Regions from separate parts of the Homo sapiens genome. Here region 1 is linked to region 2. Evidence: fine-mapped expression QTL. A gene starts in region 2. The other region holds a variant in brackets. All regions are shown on one strand. Distances are between the middles of the regions. Region 1 overlaps SH3GL3 (SH3 domain containing GRB2 like 3, endophilin A3). Region 2 holds the start of SH3GL3 (SH3 domain containing GRB2 like 3, endophilin A3).

What was found. PIP is the estimated chance that this variant, and not a neighbour inherited with it, causes the effect.
Region 1: its variant is fine-mapped to the expression of SH3GL3 in spinal cord (GTEx, PIP 0.99).

What each region holds. Positions count from the first base shown.
Region 1 is chr15:83,573,570-83,585,480 of GRCh38, reverse strand. SH3GL3 (SH3 domain containing GRB2 like 3, endophilin A3) reads right to left here. Exons shown (of 9, transcript NM_003027.5): 6 at 8,740-8,898. Among named protein-coding and RNA genes, the nearest start is that of ADAMTSL3, 75 kb to the left of the region's middle. The variant G/A (reference allele first, on the strand shown) is at 5,999.
Region 2 is chr15:83,440,989-83,452,899 of GRCh38, reverse strand. It overlaps SH3GL3 (SH3 domain containing GRB2 like 3, endophilin A3), which reads right to left and starts at 5,559. Exons shown (of 9, transcript NM_003027.5): 1 at 5,322-5,559. The coding sequence starts at 5,366. RefSeq lists an enhancer at 5,704-5,863.

The sequences.
Region 1 (11,911 bases), 130 kb before region 2:
GTAAAATTTATTTGCCCTGTCTTATTACCCACTTTAAAAAATGCTTGCATTTTATAATTTTTAAAGAAATAGTGAAAGATAGCTAAATTAATATTTCTTGAAACATATTTGGGGTTGGGGAACAGGAAGGGGGCAAGGGGATTACCAGCTATCCTCCCTGTCGTGGCTAAAACACAAGGTGATGTAATCTAGAGATGCATTCGTAACTGCTCATTGGGTGGCTGACTTTGGGAAGGAAATGAATCCTGAAAACCCTTAAACCTTGGGAAACAATGGCAGCACTGCCCAATGCTTGCACCTAGCAGGTGCTCAGTACAAGTCCTGAAGGGCTGGCTACTAGGCTGTAAGTCTCTTGTTGACAGTAAAGACCAGGTGTGCTACGATAGATTATTTTCCTCTTGATTTCAGAAAATTGAAGCTTCCAGCTGTCCCCCAGGTCATGAGCATTGAGCTGTGTGCTGGGGACCATGGGGACCAACACAGGTACATTCAGCTTCCTGAACCACGATTAGAAATAAATACCTAGACAGGCAGAACCAAGATAAAGCAACAAACTCAGGCTTAGCAAGAGCCAAAACCTGACCAAAAGGTAAAACATTTCTTCCATTGTTGGAATTTCAGCAGTCCATCTGTTGAATCAGAGAAAGTCACCTGGGGTGGGAAGAAAGGTTTAATTCCACTTCCGGGTTGAGACCTGGGCTGACACTGTGCTGGTGCCATCTTGAGAGCAAAGTGTGACCTCACCCATGAAAATGTTCACGTGATATACGCCAAGGAACTGGATTTCCAGAGAATCCACTCCCTTTTCTGAAAGTGAAGCACTCTAGCTCCTACAGATGGGCTCACACTCAGCTGATGTTTGAAGTGAGAAACTCATAATGCAAGCTGACTTCCATGTAGGTTAGAGGTCAAGGAGGCACAGGCCTCGGTGGTTGACAAATGTGTGAAGTGAGGGCTGTGAAGAAGCAACTTGGGAGACACACAGAACCATAAAACCAGAGGGGGCCTGAGGTAGACAGAATCATGGAACCTGCAAAGATGTCCAAATATTAATTCCCCAAACCTGCAAATATGTTACTTTACATAGCAAAAGGGACTTTGCGGTTATGATTGAGTTAAGGATCTTAACATGAAGAGATTATTTTGGAACGTCTGAATGGCTCAATGTAATCACGAGGTCCTTTAAGGGGGAGACAGGAGTGCCAAGGTCAGAGAAGATATGACAATGGAAGCAGAGGTCAGAATGAGATACGTGAAGATGCTGTGCCGCTGGCTGTGAAGAGGGAGGAAGCGAAGAATGAGCCAAGAAATGCAGGTGGCCTGTAGAAGCTGGAAAAGGCAAAGAAGCAGCTTCTTCCTCAAGAGCCTCCAGAACAAACATGGCCCTACCCACACCTTGATTTTAGGACTCTAGGCTGGAAGACAATAAATGTGTGTTGCTTTAAGCTACAGTTTGTGGTCATTTGTTATGGCCCCAATAGGAAACTGATACAGAGCTGCTTTAGCCCATCCTCAAACTATGCAAAAACCTAACAATGAGATTAGTGCTGCCCAGGGACCCCCATTCATGGTGATGGGAGTTGTTGCCTGGAGACGCATAAGAACCAAGCTCAGGGGGTAATGGGCCCATCGTGGCTGGGCCTGGGGACTTCATTGTTGGTTTGGCTGTATCCCAGGGCTCCTCACTCTCTTCTGAGGGATAACCCCAAAACAGGAATTAACTCAATTTATCTCCCATGGCAGACTATACACAATAAACAATCCACAAGTGACACACGTGTGTCACCTGTGGATGCATTTCATTCCAAACCTCTCTATAGCTGGAAACCAATGGATGATTAGCAGCATATATGGCCGTTGGGAGTATCTTAGTCCTGGGGATGGAAACAGAGAATAGATGTCCCCAACTACAATGGACTAAGGATACTAGAAGTTTCTAGGAGTTATGGAAACCCCAGGGACACTTGCATAAGATCTGAGCCATTGGCCTGGCCTTGTGAGCCAACTGCAAAAGGCTTAGGCTGTACCCAAAGGAAGAATGGCTCAAAGGACTGCATACTGTAACCAAGGCTGTCTTAGGCCAACTCTGCAAGAGGACTATGGAAACTGGGGTGCCTAGAAGGAGCAGGGCTGGGAACCCTCCTCCTCTGACCCTTTAGCAATCCCTTACCAGGGGACTTGGTGAGCAGCCGGGTGAGTAAGCAGAGAGTAGCACACCCTGAAGCCCATGGCGAGGACAGAGAGAGAACTGTGATGTGAGTAGCTGATGCCTGTCCAGACGCCTGGGGTCTGCAAGTGTGTTTGGCATGCAGGAATAAAGAAGTGTACATCTTCAAAAGACGACAAGCCATTCTCTTTCACAACTGAAAAGGCACATTTCCCATAGAGGTCACCTTCAATTTACAGTGTAATAATACCAGTAATTTCTTGCTCTATCATATCAAAGACCTCTACTCTTTTTGGATTCCTCAGAGAAGCTGTGGAAAATTTCTCATGTATTTTGCAGTCTGGTCATAAACAGATGACTTTTCCAATGGGGCAAAAGCCTTTATTCAGAGTTTCTGAGAAAGTTTGAGTAAGGCAATTAAATTAATAACATGGATAATAATCCCTTACACTTTTATTCTCCACTTTATCCTTCTAAAGAATTTCTCAAATGCAGTTGTTAATTTGCCTGATACCAGTCAGGTGAAATGATTTTCCCAGAGGCTTAGCAGAAACAAAATCAGAAACAGAATTCAGGTATCTCACGCCTTGCTGGGTATGCTTTCTACAAGTTCAATACTTCCTAATGCATCTTATTCCACACATTACAGTCCTGAAACATTAGTAATAATATAATAATGTGACGGAATTCTGCGGTCAAATAAGTTTGGTAAACTGCCAACTGTATTTTCTGTTAGGAACCGCTTAGAGATTAATCTTTCATACTGTCAAATAAAGACTCTGAAAAGTCTTGTGATAAAGAAACTGTTTAGTTTTATTTAACCCAGGGTTTCCCAAACTTATGTGACCACAGAGACATTATTAATGCAAAACACACTAACATCCCATGGAATGGATTTTGGAAAATGCTACTCTAGACCAATGGAAAGACCTCAGGAATCTGGAATCTAGTAATTCCACTGGTCTTGGGAACCCATGAATGGAAGGAGGATCCCGTAGCTGGTGAATGTATACCAAGACAGCCAGTACTGCAGGTGCCTGGACTCACTGGACTGAAATAGGCATCTTCTATGGAATATCTCTGATTTCTGCTAATGTCAAAGACCTACATTTGCTACTAGTAAGTTGTGAGGAATAATGAGGAATAAACTTCTCTGCAAAGACAGAAGAGGTGACAGTGTGTTAACAAGCCTATGGGTGATATAGTGTTCCCAAGATACGGCAATGAAGGCTGGTAACCAGTCTGCTGACTTTCCCACACTTTCCTCCAAGAGGAGGGCTGCCCTGGTTACTTCTCAGGACCCTGCCAAGCCCAACTTGGCCTGGTGAGAAATCAGTCATGGGACTGCCCCTCTTGGATCCCTGGAAAGTTGGAGAACCAAAACACCTCCTGGCTTGCATCACTGCCTATAGAATAACGACACTGCTCAGCCTCAGGCAAGATGTGAAGAGATGCTCAATGTCTCTAATCCAGCTCCCATTCACAAGACAACCAAAGGCTACAGTGTGGGGCCGAAGGAGACTCTTCTTCATTCTCCCATTCCCAGTTCTGCCAAAAATAGATGAGAAAATAGATAAAACTTCTGCTTAGGAATGTTAGAGTTAGCATGTCATGTCTCTCTACCTCCCCTTCCTTTGGTGATTCATCTAACTGGTGAGATTACGGGAGTGGCACCCACTTGGCCCTAATAACCAGGGTACCTAGACACTGCAAGGAAAGGCAGTAGGGGCCTGGCTCTGGGCTCCGGATTTCTCAAGAAAGTGGGTTTGTGAAGTGGCCACAAGATCGTGTGTCATCTGGCTTTGTGGTCTCTGCACCCGCTCTCTCTGCAGGGGCTCCAAGGTCTAGACTTCAGGCCAGGAATAGCTCACTGGACTTCTACTGTGGGCCCAGGCCCAAGCTGCCCCTTCCAACATGGCTTTCTAGAGAGCCCTGCTCTCTGAGCAAGGGGCTGGCATGTGATCTCATGTGGCTCCCTGGGTTTGTTTCTCAGTTGGGAGAATGCAGAGGTGAGGACAGTGAACAACCACACCCTGGAAATCCCTGCAAATGGCCTGTTGGCCAGAAAACCCTAGGAAGTACTACATCTGGAGACCCAGGAAAGACCAAGTCTGTTAACTCCAGTCAGGGTTCTCCTCACATCAGTCAGAGTTTTGGCAAACAGTTTCTTTTGAGGCATTCCCCGGTGAAGCTTTTATTGCGTCTTAGCCAGGATGATGAGACATGAGGGCTGGAGAAGGCACCAGCTCTTCCCCCAGGGTGAGATTTTGGTCTTTGAATTGTCAGTGCCAAACAGAGATGGACAGGTAGCACAAGAGCACCAAGCACACCCATCTCAGAGGATTTCCCTTCATTTGCTTCTCTGCTTATTCACTTTCTCTTTGGAGCGAATGCTTCTAAGTCCTCTCGCCAGGCCCTCCTCTTCCTCCTCTTGTGGATGAGGTTGGGGGTGCTCCCTAGTTAGTAGGATGGGTTGCTCTGCCTCAGTCACTGGCTCTGCAGGGTTGGGGCCAGCAAGGCTCCCACTCACCCAGCTTCAGCGTCTCAGGCTGTATCTGGGTGGTAAGACAGGCGGGCTCTCCCCTAGAGCTGGCTGTCATCCACCGAAGGTGCAAGGAGGGGAAAGTGCCAACAGGACTTTAGGCCCAGGCCATGTCCTTCAGCACAGTTGACCAGGAGGTCTGTATTTTACAATTTTCAAGCATTCTCATCAGTTAAAGAGATGTCCCTTGATTCCAATCCGGCTTTTTTGTCACTTCCTCCATTGGTCAGAACCCAAAGGGTGAATGGCTGTGACTGACATCCCCAAACTTCCCACCACAGTAACAGAAGCATGTCCCACTTGTGTCTGGAGGAAGTGTCAGGGCCTCTGCTGCCTGCCACCAGGCTTCCCTTGCAGCCACTCATTTGACAGTTTGTGCACCTTGTCTCCAGCAGGTACCAGATCAGGTAGAAACACCGTCCAATCCATCAGGCAGCAGCACCCAAAGACCCACTGTGTTTGACATGGCGATTAGAACAGGTCCCAGCCATCTTTAGTTTCTGCCAGGAAATCCAGCCCTCCCCAGCCATCCCGAAGCACAGCTCCTCATGCAGGACTTCCCCACCAGGAAAGGAAGCAACATGGCAACAAGAGGTTGAGTGACCAAGGTTGGACGTGCGGGTTGTGACTCACAGGGAGCAGGAAACCAGAGTCCCATGGGCTACAAGGCCACCAGCTCTGGCCTGGTTGTTGGAGATGGGCCAAACACAGGGCCAAGGGTTCAATGTATGCCCCATCAACCATGTATTGGCATTTTGTCTTTCTCCCAACTAGTCACATTCTCTGTTTATCCCCAAGCACCAGGCAGTATCGGCATTGGCATGTCAGGTCCAAGGAGTGACCAGCAGGAGATTTTTCTCTAGCTTGTCTGGTCAACAGGAGAGGATGGTCAGACCACCTGGCTATGGCACAGACACACTGACATGGAAAAGGATCAGGTGATTCCCTCTGATCTAACTGCTGTTGACCCCAAGAAGAGAGTAAGATGGGCTTCTGAAGCCTAAACAATCATCTCTGAGTCTCCTCAGCTATAAACCTGGGTAGGAGAAAAGGTAAACGCACATGCACCATGACAGGGACCATCAACAGCACCCCCTTAGCCTCTTTATCATGGGGTGTCAGTGAATGGTAGCTCTTGTCATTGTCATCATCATTATCACCACTGTCTTTATCATTATCACGATCACCACCATTACCGCAAGAAGCAGCAGCCAGAGCACACCTAGCAGCCATTGCAGCTACAGATGGCAGGAAGCAGGAAGCAGGAAGGAGGGAAGAGCCTAGTTCCC[G/A]GGCAGCCTGGGCGGCCCATCTCCGTTTCATAACGTTGGTCTCCTCCCACCTCAATGGCAGAAGTAGAAGCCAGACAACCCCTCCTTGTGAAGGTGAAGACCCCAGGATCCAGGCTGAGGGAGCAGCCCTGACTCCCCAGAGCTGAACAGGGGAAACCTCCACTCACCTGCAGGTCAATTTCCCACAGGAAGCCTTGGAGGAAACACTGCAACCAGGCCGGAGCAAGGCCAGCACCAGAGCCCCTGCGGAGCTTGGGCTAGGAACCAGCTCTTACTTCTGCTGGGGCAGGGTGGGAGGACTTAACCCATTTGTGACAGGCAGAATACGTGTTACTGTCAAAACATGGACAAATGATTGAGCTTTTATAATGAAGGGATCCTTTTTGACTTTTGACTGATACTGAGGGGGAAAACTGAGGTCTCTTGGGTCAACTGCTAAGGCCGGCGTGGCTCAGACAGGCTTCCCTCATGGAGCACTTCGCAAAAACCCATCATTGTGGTTCCCGCATGAAGGCAGTGAATGGAACAAATGGGTCAGACGGCGCATCTGACACACAAGACACAATCTCAGAGTTTAAGCCATGAATGGGCCTGGAGCCAGCAGGGCAACATTCCATATGGCCCAACAAGGAGTATCTGATACATGTCACACTTCAAATACATTTTCTAAAGACTTCAAAACAATACGGCAATCTGAAACAAAACAAAATCGCTGTTGCTTGGGGACAATTTCAAGAGGAAATTTATACATTTAAAGAAAAACAGAGATACCAAACTGTCACACCTCCTCCTATTTCCCAAAAAAAATGTAAAAAAAAAAAAAAATTAAAAGAAGAAACACAGTAGAGTGTACTTTTCAGGCCTCAGTGGTTTAATGGGCATGGGAAATTTCAAATTGGCATTTCCAGTTGGGAGAATAAATTCTCCAGGATGAATGTCTTGTTAGTATTGGACATAATTCCTCCATACATCACCATGGTAAATAAAGGGTGCTCAATGCATTTTGACTTGACTCAAAGGATGTAAGACCTCAGTGTACCTTTAAATAAACTGTTATAAGGACGACATGGTCTTGAGGATAAATAAACCTCCTGACTTGTTCCCACAGGTTTAAAAACTTAACAATTAGGTCCCATACTAATGCTGGGGCTGAGACAGCTCCTGGCATCGCTGAAGCCAGGCTGAGGGCAGGGGCTCCGGAGGGAGGCAGGTGGCTGACACCTCTTCCACTCAGGCAGTCAAAGTGCCAATGGCCCCTTAAACCCAAGGCCGAGCAGGGAGGCCACCCCCAGCTGCGTGTTGCCTGGTCAGGAGTCACCGTCCTCCTTAATTCCATTTCATTTGACTTTACTTGGACAAATCAAATCAAAGCAAATGGCAGGAACCACAGTACAATAGAAGATTGGCACTTCTGAGGGATAAGATCCGAGACCTTCACAATTCCCGAGCCCACAAGCACCACTATGGAACAGCTGAAAAATTTGGGTCATGCTTTTGTGTCCTCAATGTGGGCTATGACAGGTAAAGGCACCAGAGAGCTGGGGGATGACAGCGGCTGTCCGCCCCCCAGATAAGAGAGCTGTTCTCCCTTAACCATCTGCCTTGCCAAGTACTTTTCAGTCTCAGCAAAATGGCAAATTACTACATGACCTCGACTTTTCATTCTCCTGTGAAACCATAAATCCTATGGCCTCACATACAAAAGCCAGTCTACTTAGCAATCTTCAGAGACAACCTCTGAAGCAATCCTGGGATAAACAGGACTCCTCAAGATTTAAGATATTGAGTCAGGGGCTGGCGTGGTGGCTCACACCTGTAATCCCAGCACTTTGGGAGGCTGAGTCGGGTAGGTGGCTTGAGCCCAAGGGTTCATGATCAGCCTGGGCAACATGGCGAAACTCCCATCTTGACAAAAAATTATCAGGGTTTGGTGGCATGCCTGTGATCCCAGCTATCCAGGAGGCTGAGGTGGGAAGATCGCTTGAGCCTGGGAGGTCGAGGCTGCAGTGAGTCACAATCGTGCCACTGCACTCCAGCCTGGGCAACAGAGTGAGACCCTGTCTCCAAAAAAAGATGTGAGTCAGGGCTTGCTGGATGTCTGAAGCAATCAATCTCTCAGGCAGGAGATAGGAGAAAATTCTAGAAACTTGCATAACAACTAAGGCTTTAGAGCAAGTTTGTCCAACCTGTGGCCCACAAGCCACATGTGGCCCAGGATGGCTCTGAATGTGGCCCAACACAAACTCATAAACTTTCTTAAAACATTATGAGATTGGACGGGGGTGGTGGCTCACACCTTTAATCCCAGCACTTTGAGAGGCCCAGGCAGGCAGATCATGAGATCAGGAGATCGAGACCCTCCTGGCCAACATGGTGAAACCCTATCTCTACTAAAAATACAAAAATTAGCCGAGTGTGGTGGTGCGTGGCTGTAATCCTAGCTACTCAGAAGGCTGAGGCATGAGAATCACTTGAACCAAGGAGACGGAGGTTGTAGTGAGCCGAGACACTGCACTCCAGCCTGGTGACAGAGCGAGACAGCGTCTCAAAAAAAAAAAAAATTATGATTTTTTTTTTAAGCTCATCAGCTATTATTAGTATTAGTGTATTTTATGTGTGGCCCAGGGAAGCCAAAAGATTGGACACTCCTGCTTTAGAGTTTTTCAACATGCCGATCATAGTCATATATTCAATGTTTCATTCATTTACATTAAAATCTCCTATTTGGTTTAAATACTTACATCATTTTCTAAAAAGTTAAACATGCTTCTTTCAGCCAACTCCTTTGACTCTTCAAATTTTTCTACCGCTTGTCTGACTTCTTCGTCTGGTATCTTACCTACTCGTTTCTTTTTATAATCGTAATCCAGGCGGCGGCCTTCCAGCTTTTTCAGGTGATGCTAAAAAAAGAGAATGGAGTCCCTCAGAGAGGTGCTACATTCAAAACCTGGCACAAAAAATTATTTCTATTAAAATGGTCATTGCTTTTTCTCGGCCTAGATTCCAGAGGGCAGGAACCCACCTTACACTGCTGTTGGGAGCACCTCAGCACCTGATGGAGGCTCCCCTCACTTCAGGTGCTCCAGGAATATTTGTGGAATGAATGAATGAATGGACAGATCGGTGATAGAATGAATGAGTGTCTTTATGGAATGTAATGATGCAGTAGCCATGCTCAGATATTATTTTCCAACGTTCTTTATACGATCCCTCACTTCAGCCTTCTTAATGTCCAGATAATTTCTAACCAGGTTAACCAAACAAAACACAGTAGGAACATTTCTTTTGGTACTATTGTCAACTCCTGACTAAGTAGTAGACTATAAAATCACAAACTTCTACAATCCCTTAGAATATTAACGGATCTCCGTAAAGTTCCCAAACAATCAAGAAATAAGTTGCGTAAAACGCTGTTAATGAATGCAAAGGAGAGAGATTCACAGACAACCTCTGAAACAGTAAAATTTCTAAACAATATTATAACCGCTTTAACAAAATATAACAGTTAGAACTGTCCACTCATGGAACAGGCTGCCTTGCGTAGCAGTAGGTTTCCCATCACAGTTTGTGTCCAAGCAGAGAGACCCCGTGTCAGAAACAGTGCTGAGTGGGATAGCTATACAGGACAAGGGAGGGGTCCCTGGAGAGTTTATGGCTATAATCCTCGGAAATCAGATACCAGGCATCGAAAGTGTATGTAGAAACTGATCATCCCACTGAAGCATGGGGATAGCTCGCACTATTCATTTTAGCAGGAAGCACTGCTTCTAACTTCCATGACTCAGTGAAAAGAGCACACAAGACCCAGAGAGTCAGAAACATCTCTCTCTTTGCTCTGTGACTTTGGGCTGGTCCCTAATCCCTCTGTACCTCTACATGAACACCTGAAAGTCAGCCGTATGTCAAATGAACAGGCCCCTGACCCCTGATTTCTGAGCGACACAGAGCATAGCTGAGACTATGAAAGGCTTCCTAAACCTTGGACTCTTAACTTTCCATCATCCACATAATTTAAGTTTAGATTTACAGTTCTGTATCAAACAGCAGCTGAGTAACAAGATGGCATTTAGAAAACTATTTTGTTGCATAGAGAACTGCAACATTTCAGAATAAGTGTGTTTTACACATTTCACCCACTTACTACTCAGGACCACATATGTGTCTGTGGTTGGCCAGGTGGAGGAGCAATGCTGACTTTTCATATGACCTTCCTCCATGATGACAGCACAAGAAGAAATAAAACTTGCTATATGTCAGCAAAGGAGGCATTTGGTTTTACAACTGTGCATTTGGGGGAGATGTTTTGGCATCCCCAGAACCCAGACTGTCACTTCTCTAGAATCAACCATTCAAAAATAATTTGCAAAAACATCTCCTGTACCCCACCAACATATACACCTACTACGTACCCACAAAAATTAAAATTAAAAAAATAAAATAATGTGTGAGCACAAACCACGTGGGAGGCTTGTGACTACAAGGAACAAACCACGATCACTCACCCCGAGGAATGGACTGCCCAACATGAGCAAAAGGTAAGCAACGGTGCTCATGACACAGAGGCACAGAAGGGATACCCCACGAAGTCTAGCGAAAGAACAAACAGCTTCCCAAAGGAAAGCACATCCGAGCTGAGGGGTGAGGTGACAGCCAGGAGAAGGGGTGAAAGGACAAAGACAGCAAATAGCGAGAAAGCACAAAGCAAAACGTCACCAGGGAGCTGGAAATAATTCAGTGAGGCTGGGCAGAGTTCATGTGGGGAAGGGGTGGCAATAAGGCCACAGAGGAAAGGAGGGGCCAGGCTGTGAAGGGCTGAGGGTCTATATCTTCACCCCACTGTCAGTGGGCAGCCAGGAAGGTTTGCAGCTCAGAAAGGGTGCCCTGGCTGTGGGCTGGAGAATGGACAGGAGGGAGTGAGATGTGACACCAGGGGTCAAGGGCAGCTGTGCTGTGTGTAAATGTTAACAGGAAGAAGCCAACAGACAGAAAGGGAAAGAATGAAGATACACCAGAGAGGACGATGGATGTCACAACGGCCCTGAGGAGGTGAGAGGTGACAGACCCTGCGGCCCAGAGGAGGACTGGCTTGAGAGCAACAGGGACATGTTTCCCCTGAGATGGAAGAAGAGGATGGTATGAGTGTCGGGGCCAAGGGGTGTGCAGGTGGGGAATGGGATGTTTAGGGAGCTCCTGAATGGATGCTTTCATTTCTCACTCAAACTTCCTGAATTCTCCCTCATACCCTTTGCTTTCAGCAGAAATTCTAAATACATTGCCTGGACAGGCATCCAGGGCTTTCCGTGACTCTCAGCCTTTCCTCCCTTCATTGCACCCCCACCCCTACACACCCTATCCCCTGGCCATATCACACAACCGAGGTCCCCGAGCCTGCCTGCTCTCACAGCCCTGGCCCTCTGGTCAGCTTGTGCTGGATATTTTGCCCACCCCAGTCTCCCAGTCTGCATTAGCCAGCTTCTCCTCCTCTGAGAAGCCTTCCCTGACCCATCCAGGCTGAAAGAGGTGCTTCTCCTTCATGTCCCTGGGCTCATCTCTCCAACAACTGTCAAAGTGCATGGTATCTGTTTACTTGTCTCTCTACCCTACACCTGTGAGCTTCACAAGGGCATGCACCAGGTCTTGTTTAGCCACATATGGCCAGTGCCCACCACCACTGTAGCAGGGCAGAGCAGGCTATACACAGTTGATGGATGAATAAATAAATGAACAAAGGAAGAACCAATAATCTGACATCCATCAGTTCCTTCTCTGGCCCCTGGAATATGGAGCCACCTCAAGGCCCACGGTCCAAGCAGGGAAGGCCACCCAAGCTCACACATCCCACCAGCCTCATCTCTGTCACATAGGCTAGACCAGTGGGGGTTCACACTTCCCCCTCGAGTTCTGGAAAGGATG
Region 2 (11,911 bases):
TCCCTTTGAAAACTGGCAAAAGACAGGGATGCCCTCTCTCACCGCTCCTATTCAACATAGTGTTGGAAGTTCTGGCCAGGGCAATCAGGCAGGAGAAGGAAATAAAGGGTATTCAATTAGGAAAAGAGGAAGTCAAATTGTCCCTGTTTGCAAACGACATGATTGTTTATCTAGAAAACCCCATCGTCTCAGCCCAAAATCTCCTTAAGCTGATAAGCAACTTCAGCAAAGTCTCAGGATACAAAATCAATGTACAAAAATCACAAGCATTCTTATACACCAACAACAGACAAACAGAGAGCCAAATCATGAGTGAACTCCCATTCACAATTGCTTCAAAGAGAATAAAATACCTAGGAATCCAACTTACAAGGGATGTGAAGGACCTCTTCAAGGAGAACTACAAACCACTGCTCAAGGAAATAAAAGAGGACACAAACAAATGGAAGAACATTCCATGCTCATGGGTAGCAAGAATCAATATCGTGAAAATGGCCATACTGCCCAAGGTAATTTACAGATTCAATGCCATCCCCATCAAGCTACCAATGACTTTCTTCACAGAATTGGAAAAAACTACTTTAAAGTTCATATGGAACCAAAAAAGAGCCCGCATCGCCAAGTCAATCCTAAGCCAAAAGAACAAAGCTGGAGGCATCACACTACCTGACTTCAAACTATACTACAAGGCTACAGTAACCAAAACAGCATGGTACTGGTACCAAAACAGAGATATAGATCAATGGAACAGAACAGAGCCCTCAGAAATAATGCCGCATATCTACAACTATCTGATCTTTGACAAACCTGAGAAAAACAAGCAATGGGGAAAGGATTCCCTATTTAATAAATGGTGCTGGGAAAACTGGCTAGCCATATGTAGAAAGCTGAAACTGGATCCCTTCCTTACACCTTATACAAAAATCAATTCAAGATGGATTAAAGATTTAAACGTTAGACCTAAAACCATAAAAACCCTAGAAGAAAATCTAGGCATTACCATTCAGGACATAGGCGTGGGCAAGGACTTCATGTCCAAAACACCAAAAGCAATGGCAACAAAAGCCAAAATTGACAAATGGGATCTAATTAAACTCAAGAGCTTCTGCACAGCAAAAGAAACTACCATCAGAGTGAACAGGCAACCTACAACATGGGAGAAAATTTTCGCAACCTACTCATCTGACAAAGGGCTAATATCCAGAATCTACAATGAACTCAAACAAATTTACAAGAAAAAAACAAAGAACCCCATCAAAAAGTGGGCGAAGGACATGAACAGACACTTCTCAAAAGAAGACATTTATGCAGCCAAAAAACACATGAAGAAATGCTCACCATCACTGGCCATCAGAGAAATGCAAATCAAAACCACTATGAGATATCATCTCACACCAGTTAGAATGGCAATCATTAAAAAGTCAGGAAACAACAGGTGCTGGAGAGGATGTGGAGAAATAGGAACACTTTTACACTGTTGGTGGGACTGTAAACTAGTTCAACCATTGTGGAAGTCAGTGTGGCGATTCCTCAGGGATCTAGAACTAGAAATACCATTTGACCCAGCCATCCCATTACTGGGTATATACCCAAAGGACTATAAATCATGCTGCTATAAAGACACATGCACACGTATGTTTATTGCGGCACTATTCACAATAGCAAAGACTTGGAACCAACCCAAATGTCCAACAATGATAGACTGGATTAAGAAAATGTGGCACATATACACCATGGAATACTATGCAGCCATAAAAAATGATGAGTTCATGTCCTTTGTAGGGACATGGATGAAATTGGAAATCATCATTCTCAGTAAACTATCGCAAGAACAAAAAACCAAACACCGCATATTCTCACTCATAGGTGGGAATTGAACAATGAGATCACATGGACACAGGAAGGGGAATAACACACTCTGGAGACTGTGGTGGGGTCGGGGGAGGGGGGAGGGATAGCATTGGGAGATATACCTAATGCTAGATGACACTTTAGTGGGTGCAGCGCACCAGCATGGCACATGTATACATATGTAACTAACCTGCACAATGTGCACATGTACCCTAAAACTTAGAGTATAATAGAAAAAAAAAAATTAAAAAAAAAAAAGAAAATCTATAACCTTAAAAAAAAAAAAAAAGAAAAATATCCCATTTTAATAAAGGATAATGCATATTAGAAAAAAAAAAAAAAAGAAAAATTTGGGTTCTAGTCTCAAACGCTGAAACTTAGAATTAATTAAATTTTTTTGTTAACTTATATTCTTCTCATTTTAGCATATTTCTTCCTCTTTCCTGTTGGTCTCCATGTGCTGCCAAAATGATGCATAATCCCCAGGGTTTACGAGTCTTCATTCTCTGTAAAGTAGGGGTTTTTTCCCAGAGATAGGGAAGGTATCAGGAAAAAAGGAACAGTTAACCGGGTTATAGCTAATTTTACCTCGCTTATCTTTCAGAAAACTATCTCAGTTTGCCATGGTCCTGGATCCCTTCTCTGTAAAAGGTCCACTTTATCATCTTTGTCTTACTCTGAAATGCTTAACTTACTTAAGAATTTCAGCACTGAGATGTATACATACACACACACCCAGAGACACAGAGACATATTCGTATCACTTTATTGAGATATATTTCACATACCATACAATTCTCTTAAAGTGTACAATTCAGTGGTTTTCAGCATATTCACAGAGTTGTGAAACCATTGCCACAATCATTTTTATAACAGAAACATAGCTTCTAAATTCCCTGAGTCATCATACAGATAGAAACCAAGGTCCAGATGGGTTAAGTTATGTTCCCAAGGTTACAGAGCTGGTCAGTGGCTGAGCCAGACCTAGATCCCTGGAAATTATTTTAGCCATTGACATCATCTGGGGCTCCCTTCCCCTGCCCCAGGTAAGTTCTGTATGAATTAAAACCTGCTGTTAAAATGTTGTCTGAGAAAAACATCTGGCATTTTTTATTATTGAGCTCCCTCATATTATATTAAACCGGTCTGATTTCTCCACCAAATTGTTGCATTGCAAGATTTTTTAGAAAGACTTCTAGAACATATTAAAACATATCTACTGAGTACTTTTAACCACAAAACATGGCTATGAAGCCCAGAGAGAATCTGTGATGCCTCTCCTTTCAGGTAAAGTCATAAATTATTTCCGCTCATGCGAAAAAAAAAAAAAAAAAGACTAAATAAGACGTTCTGTTCATTTCATTTTTAATGTACTGATTACAGGTAGTTAAACCAAACTACCCATGACTAGCAAAATATTTCTCCAGTGCCAATAACTTCCAAGGATTTCAACCATTCATTCTGGTTACTGTCAGAAACCAACTTAAATCACCCAAGGGCTTACGTTATCTCTGAGATTTGCTTATCTTTGAGATTTGCCCCTGTGAAGTCCATACCCAATAAAGGAAAAGTTTTCAAAAGAGGAGGTTCATTTCCTGCCAGTGCTAAGGAAGCCAATGTAACAAGTACAGCCAGCGATTACTCTGGCACTGCTCTGCTCTGCTCTGCTCACAGCAGCACTCGGCCTCCTGGCTGTACCAGCTGAGGACACTCCACAATACCTAGCTCACTGAAGCACTTGTTGATTGCTCCTGCCTTTAAATGTCCCCCTTCCATGATGGTCTTCTCTCTCCTGTCATCTACGAGTTCTTTCTTTCCTGTGTTGTGCCACCCCAAAATTTCATCTATTCAATAAATATTTATTGAGTGGTCACTGCTCAACAATTACTGGGCTAAACATTGTCCCTAAATGGGGGTGCTGTCTAGAGTCTGCCTTTAACTCGCTGTGCCTTTTCTCACTTTTGTCTACACATACATTTTTAAATCTCCGCTTAGGCTGGAAATCACCAAAAATCTGTAGCTCCAGTACCAGCCTCACCCCCTGAGCTGCAGGTCAGGATATGCACCCCAACCCAGGCCAGTGACATGTGAATGTCCCAAAGACCCCTCAAAGTCCCTGGGTTCAGTGGTGAATCCATCATCTCCACCCTCACCTGAATAGCCTCTCCTCCAGGGCTCCTTAACACCTTGAATAGCACCACTGTCCACCCAGTGCCCCCAGCTAGAAACAGCATCACCCAGTTTCCATATGGAAAGAGTGTGAGTGAGGGGACAGCAGTGCCTTTCAGCCTGGAACTGGGGCTAGAAGAAGAGAATCTTCTAATTGCAGTTGCTTTCTATGGGCCAATTTGTGGGAGAAGCAGGATGAGACCTCACCACAAATGTGGACGTTGAATGAAATCTGTCTACCCTGGCTCTAGCAAAATGGGGGCTGGGGTTGCGGGGAGAGGTGGTGAGAAGCAACAGACCCAGCGGTGCTGGTGGGGAACAGGTTTTACAACGTGAGCTCTGCCATAGCTGGAAGAGCCTGCAATGTTGATGTTGAAAAACAAATTTGCTTGTCATCAACACACACACACACACACACACACACACACACACACACATCAATTTCATGTCTCCCCTCCTGTTTTCCTGTTTCCTCTGCTCAGAACGGCTTTCCTCCTATCATCCCACACCCTCAGCCATAATTCTTCCTCATACTTAATTCTCAAATGACATGTCTCCTCCTCCGGGAAGCTCTCCCTGACGCCCCCACTGTGTTATTTGTCATCCTCTGTGCGTGGAGGTGTGTCTAGCACTGTTTGTTTACGTGTCTGTCTCCGTGTCTCCCCTGCAGGCTGTCAGCTCTGTAAGAGCAGAAGCGTGATGCCCAGCCCCGGGCCGACACCGGGAAGACGGTGGGGAGGGGAAGGACCGCGGTAGAGAGCCCCAGCCGGGGAGCCGGGCACAGTCCAGACGGGGCCATTTCGATGCGCGCGCGGGGAGCTCAGCGGGACACAGCCAAGCGCCAAATACACAGCATCTCTGGAGGCGCCGGTGGCCGGTGGAGGATGGGCCCCCCACGAGGCTCTCCCAACCAAACGGCTGGAGACTCGGGGGAGGCCCTGCCGGCATCGTACTCCCTGTGGTCGTCCTCCCCTCGCGCGGGTAGGGGCCCCCCCACGCCCACTCCGTCTCCGCCTCCCGAGTCCCCGCGGCCGCCACCTCTGCCCTCCGCTCCGCAGAATCTCTCCGATTTACAACGGCCCAGGGCAGAGCCGGGGGCCAGGGAATGGGAAGGAGAAGGCGCCAAGACGCCGAGGAGAGAGCAGGCGGCCCCTCACCCCACCCTCGCGCCCTCCTAGGCGGGAAGAAATTGAGCCCCGAGAGAGGCCCTTCAGGGAACAGGAGTCCCAAAGGCCCGGGAGCCTCGGGGGGCCGCAGCCTCCGCGTCCCCCTCCCTCCTTCCCTCCTCTGCGCCTCCCTACCTGGCTGGCTTTGTGGAACTGCTTCTTCAGCCCGGCCACCGACATCGCGACTGCGACCGGCAGGGGCGGGGTGGTCTCAAGGCTCGGCTGGGCCACGCGGCCGCGACGCGCTCGGGGAGCGGGAGCCCGGGCCGGTCCCCCCGCGGCTGGGCTCCGCCGGGCCCGCCTCCCACGGCCACGGCCACAGCCACAGCCGCTGTCACACTCGCACACACGCGCGCACGCCGATGGCAACACTGCGTTCCAAAGCCCCTGCGCAGCCCATTGGCCAAGCCGCGGCGATATGCAAATGAAGCTGCTGGGGCCGCCCACGCTTCATTGTTGCGTGGAGACCTGGGCTACTTGAGCCGCGCAGAAGACCGGCCTGGGAAGCTGGGCGTGGGGATGTCCTGGGGGTCGGGGGAGTACAGTCACACAGTGCTTCTTGCTGGGCGCGGGACGATATAGATCTAGCTCTGAGATTGTCATGGGTACCGGGAGAGAGATCAGTTCTCTCTGCTTCTGTCTTGGTGCCGAACCGGCTTTGGCTCACAGGCAACATCGCCTCCCTCCGGCGCATTTTCGCTCGGTGTATGTTTAAGAAAGGAAGGCTCAGAAATGCGCCTAGGGAGGGACAACAAATGCAACTCGATGGGGGACCTGTGGTAGGAGGAAGCGGTCTGTGGGTGGCGGGCTTTCTTCTCTCTCCACGCGGTGCTCTGGGTGCAATCTGCTCAAATGATTTTGGTCTTCTGGGAGCCCTAGAGTTATGGAGTAATTTACTAATAAATACGGTGCTAGCTCACTTGGTGCTCTGAGCCCGCTGTCAACGGCACTAAAAGCAACCATCTCCAAGGTGCCATAAAGAGCTCGTTGCATATCCGGCGGAGTCCACCAGACCAGGAACCCAGCTCTCTCGGTAACCCCTACCAGCTGTGTCAGTTACAGAGTGTCCATTTGCACAGAGTCCAGAGGTCGACGCACTCACAGCTAAGCCCAGCCAGGGACATGGAGCATTGCGTTAACCTCGTGTTAGAGCTATCCCCAAAAGGTACAGCATCTTCGCTGAATCTGGCTTCCAAAGGTCCCGAGGATTCCCAAACCTAGAATATATGTTTGGCAACGCTTCACACTGAAAAACAAAAACATTTCCCACCTTCAGTCTCTTTTTGGGCCCTTAGCAGGTCCCATCTGGGGTGACGAGCAGTCCCTGTCTGCCCTGGACACTTCGGGTATATGCCTGTGCCCTGGTGTCCACCTGCCATAACATTTCTCCAGGACAAAAGTCATGCAGTTCCTCCCCTAGCTGTTAGCTCCCAGCGCCCAGTCGGGGCTAGTCCTAACCCTGACTTCATCCTAGTGAGGACTGGGCAAGTAAGTACACACCTCTCTGGGCCTTGGTTTCCTCACTTCTACTTGAAGCATGTAGACTGGAATAAACAGTGTTCCTCCTCTGATACTGGGGAAAAAATGCTTGAACTTAGTGGAGATCGTGGGATAAGGGCAGCCAGTCAGAGGGTTAATGAGCATGACTTGGGTGAGTGTTGTGGGCTTACCTGCCTGACACCAGCCACTGATAGATAACTAAAAAGTGTGAGGGTGGTGACAGCTGGGTCAGAATGGCGTAGCAAGATGACCTGTCCATACAACAGTTCAAATGCCTCTCAACAGTGGGCTTCACCGCAGGCCAACCACTACATAAGGCAGAGAGCCAGCTGCAGCTGGAGTCCAGGATTGGCAGGTCTCTCTTGTCCTAGGCTATTCAGGGCTGCTCAGCTTCCTCTTTCTCCATGCTCCAGAGAGGTTTAAATAGCACCGGTTCTATGGTACCTCCCCCTAGACCAATCCGGCTCTGTGCCCTTTGGGAGGAGGGGGGTGCTTTTTTTTCAAACAGTTTATTGGCATTTCCTCCACAGTCGTTAGTACATTCAAGTTTCTCACTTCAGTTGATTTTGGTAATTTATCTCCTTCATTAATCAAGTATAGAGTTGAAGATCATACTTTTTAAACTTCAGAATCTTTCATATACATTTTCTCCTTTGTAAAAGTTTTTGTGATTTGTCTTAATTTTTTCAGTGAATAGATTTATTGGAGGTTTGCTGATTTTATTGGTCTTTCAAAATATTTTTGAAGGTACTCATCATTGCTACAGATTTTTCTCTCTCATTGATTTTTCTTTCATTATTCTTACACATTCCTTCCTTCACTTTTGTTCAGAAGACTAGTGAGAGTTTGAGGGTTTTAACAATAGAAACTGACTCTAGCTAACATAAGCTGGAAAATATGTATTGGAGAAGGATGTCAGGCAGCCTGGAGATTCACAGGAGGGGTGTAGGGAACAAGGTGGAGGGGATGAGCAGGAATTAGGAATCTGAGCACTGAGATCCACAGGGTGTCCAGGAACAGCTTGATTGGGATATGCTGGCTCTGCCACTGAGCCCTGGCCATGGCTACCAGAATGAAGGCTGCCCTTTCAGGCAGTCACTCCAGCTGCATAGTAGCAAGGGCAGCATCTGATTGGTGGATTCACTCCATGGCAGATTTCCCTACTATAGGAGGAAGCTTCAGAGGTTAGGCAGCCAAATTTTATATATATATATATTATATCATATATTATATATATATAATATATACATTCTTTAATATATACCATGTTAGAGAATATATAATATATATTAGAGAATATATATAAAAATAATATATATAAGCAACAACAAATGCCCATTAAAGTGTATTTGGGTATCCTTAATCTCATGTCTTTTATTTATTTTTATAAAACTATAAATTTTCCTCCTGAGTATGGCTTTGGTTTCATACCTTGTTTTCATGAATGATATGGATCTCCTATTTTCTAAATAAAACTTGTCATTACAGTTTTGAGTTCCTCTTTGATCCAAATGTTATTCAGGATAATTTTTTAAAAAGCTTTTCTAGGCTGGGCATGGTGGCTCACGCCTATAATCCCAGCACGTTGGGAAGCCGAGGCAGGCAGATCACGAGGTCAGGAGAGCGAGACCATCCTGGCTAACACGGTGAAACCCCATCTCTACTAAAAAGTACAAAAAATTAGCCAGGCGTGGTGGCGGGCACCTGTAATCCCAGCTACTCGGGAGGCTGAGGCAGGAGAATGGCATGAACCTGGGAGGCGGAGCTTGCAGTGCGCCAAGATCGCACCACTGCACTCCAGCCTGGGCGACAGAGTGAGACTCAGTCTCAAAAATAAAAAAAATTAAAAAAATTAGCTGGTCATGGTGGTGCATGCCTGTAGTCCCAGCTACTCTGGAGGCAGAGGCAGGAGAATCACTTGAACTCAGGAGGTGGTGGTTGCAGTGAGCCAAGATGGTGCCACTGCCCTCTAGCCTGGGCGACAGAGTGAGACTCTGTTTAAAAAAAAAAAAAAAAAAAAAAAAACCTTTTCTAGGTGGTTTGATTTTTTAAAATTTATTCTATGTTAAATTCTAGACTTGTGATACTATCGTCAAATAACATGTCTTGAAAGGTTTTTTTTAAACATAGCCTGTCATGTTTCATTGTAAACACATATCATAGAGGTTTGAAATACTGTTCATTTTGTGTTTCTAATGTACAGTTTTTTAGTTCATCTGTAACAAGAGTGTGTATTCTACACAGCTTCTAGCTCAGAGGAAGATTTCCAACTCATGCTAGCTAGAGCCCCCTTGGCCAGCTCAAGGCTTTCCCCTTCACGTCACCATCACCCTTCAATCACTAAGGGCCCACAGCTCCTCTGTTTAGGGAAGGGGGGTACAAGTGTATACAAGTGTCCTGGACTGTTTGACAGATTTGTCTACATATGGAATGAAATTGATGGGGACTGGGAAGTGTCCTGAGGCACTGACACACATCCCTCTGAACTGAAGGATTTTTGGGCATTTGGTGGTCTTCACAAGTCAATGACAAGAGGGACACTGTGGTTGTCTCTGGCACTCTGCCAGATGGCCCATGTTCTGGCAGAGGTTTCAGTGTTCTCTTAAGCTCTTTTTCTTTTTTTCTTTTCTTTTTTTTGGAGATGGAGTCTCGCTCTGTCGCCCAGGCTGGAATGAGGTGGCACAAACTTGGCTCACTGCAACCTCCACCTCCTGGGTTCAGGTGATTCTCCTGCCTCAGCCTCCCAAGTAGCTGAGACTACAGGCATGCACCACCATGCCCAGCTAATTTTTTTTTTGTATTTTAGTAGAGACGGGGTTTTCCGGAGCTGAGGCAATCAGCCCACCTCAGCTTCCCAAAGTGCTGGGATTACAGGCGTGAACCACTGCTCCTGGCCTATGCTCTTTTTCTTGTGGCCTTTGACTCACCTCCAGGCCAGCTTTTGAGTCTAATGAGTATTTGCATTCCTTGTGTCTGGTTCTGTAGCAAGTGACTCATATCTATCTGGGGGGCATTGTTGGGGGGCAGAAGAATTCTGGGTAGGGGTTAGAAGGGGAGGGAAGCATGCTTATTAATGTTCAAAATATCCCATCATATATCTCATAAATCAGGTATGAGCATGTTCAAATGCTCTGTGTTCCAATATTTTTCTTTTTTTTTTTTTTTTTTTTTTTTTGAGATGGAGTCTCGCTCTTTCGCCCAGGCTGGAGTGCAGTTGCGCTATCTCGGTTCACTGCAAGCTCTGCCTCCTGGGTTCACACCATTCTCCTGCCTCAGCCTCCCGAGTAGCTGGGACTACAGGCGCCCGCCACCGTGCCCAGCTAATTTTTTGTATTTTTAGTAGAGACGGAGTTTCACCATGTTAGCCAGGATGGTCTCGATCTCCTGACCTCGTGATCCGCCCGCCTCGGCCTCCCAAAGTGCTGGGATTACATATTTTTCTACTTTATTCGTCAAAGAGAGGTACTATATTCTACTCTACAATCTCTTGCTACAATTGTGATTATGTCTGTTGCGTCTTATATTTGGGACTTTTGTTCTAAACATTTCAGTGCTATGGTATTCTGTTTATAGGTATTTATTATTGTCATATCTTCCTTGTCGATTTTTTCTTTTATCTGTAGAAAAAAACATATTTTGTCCTACTTACAGCTTTTTGCCTTCTATTTTACTTTGCCACATACCCATATTTGTATCCTTACTTTTTGTGTATATGTGCTTCTTATGTCTTAATTGGTCTTTTGGCCTTTCATTTTGTTGTAGACACGTGCTGCTATAAACAGAGTAAAATTTAATTTTGTTTCTGGACCAAAATATGTCTTTGCCGTTTCCTAGAGAGATTTAAGCATTTATATTTATTACAAAAAGAAAAATTGTCATTGTGTGGTATGTTATTATTTTTCTTCTACATAGTTCCTTTTTGGGTTTTTTTTGGGTTTTTGTTGTTGTTGTTGTTGTTGTTGTGTTGTTGTTTTGAGACAGGGTCTTGCTCTGTTACCCAGGCTCTGGAGTGCAATAGCACAATCATGGCTCACTGAAGTCACAACCTGGGCTCACGTGATCCTCCCACCTCTCCCTCCCAGGTAGCTGGGACCACAGGCACATGCCACCACACCAAGCTGATTTTTTTTTTTTTTTTTGTACAATGGGGTCTCACTATGTTGCCCAGGCTGGTCTCAAACTCCTGGGCCCGAGTGATTCTCCTGCCTTGGCCTCCCAAAATGTTGGGATTATAGGCATAAGCCATCATGCCCAGCCATAGTTCTTTCTTCTATCATTATTATCTATCTATTACTCAGATTTTCTTTGCTTTTTCTTCCTCTTTGCTTTTGGAAATTATTCATCTAATTTTTACTCAATGAGTGATTACCACTGACCTAAAATATATTTGAATTTATATTCTCTATCAGCATCAATAATTAAACACTTTATGGAAGCCACGGCATGACTAGAATGAGCCATGGTCAGAGCACATCCACTAGGGCCACCTCATCACCTCCTTCTACTCAGACCACCTCCTGCTCCATATGAGAACCCTCAGGCAGAGACCAGAATGGGCCCAGTACCTTTTTTCTGAAACAGCAAATGAACCAGGGGGAGACTAGGGTGCAGAGTGTTGGTTTTAAGACACGGGGGCAAAGATGGAGTGACGAGAATTTAAAAACAAGTTTTGAGATAAAAGAATTGTGAAACTGTTTGAAATTCAAAATATTTTCATAAGTATATATTTTCTATTATACAATAACATTTAGAGGAAATTTGGAAATCATCAAAAAATAAAAGGATGGAAAAACTACCTTTGGAATCATATTTGAAACAATCACTCTTAATATTTTGGTATATTTTTCTTGTAGAGTATTTTTCCTGTAAAATTTAAGCATAACAGTGACATGACTATGCATACTGTATTTTCTTTGTTCTCTTAGTTAACTGAGCATTTCCTATATTGTCTAGTCTTCACACACAACATTTTAATGACAACTTAAACCATTGTAGATATATCAAATTATATTTGATTATTTTCCATTAATACACATGTAAAGGTTCCCACCCCCCATATTTTTCCTGATTTAAATAATGCCACATTAAACATCTTTTTCCATATTAAAGTTTTCTTTCTATATTTAGGAATGGACTTTCCTTAGGATGGACTCCACTCTGAGATGTAAAATTAGTGCATCAAAGAATTTGAACAATTCTAAATACTATATATATGTATGTAAAAT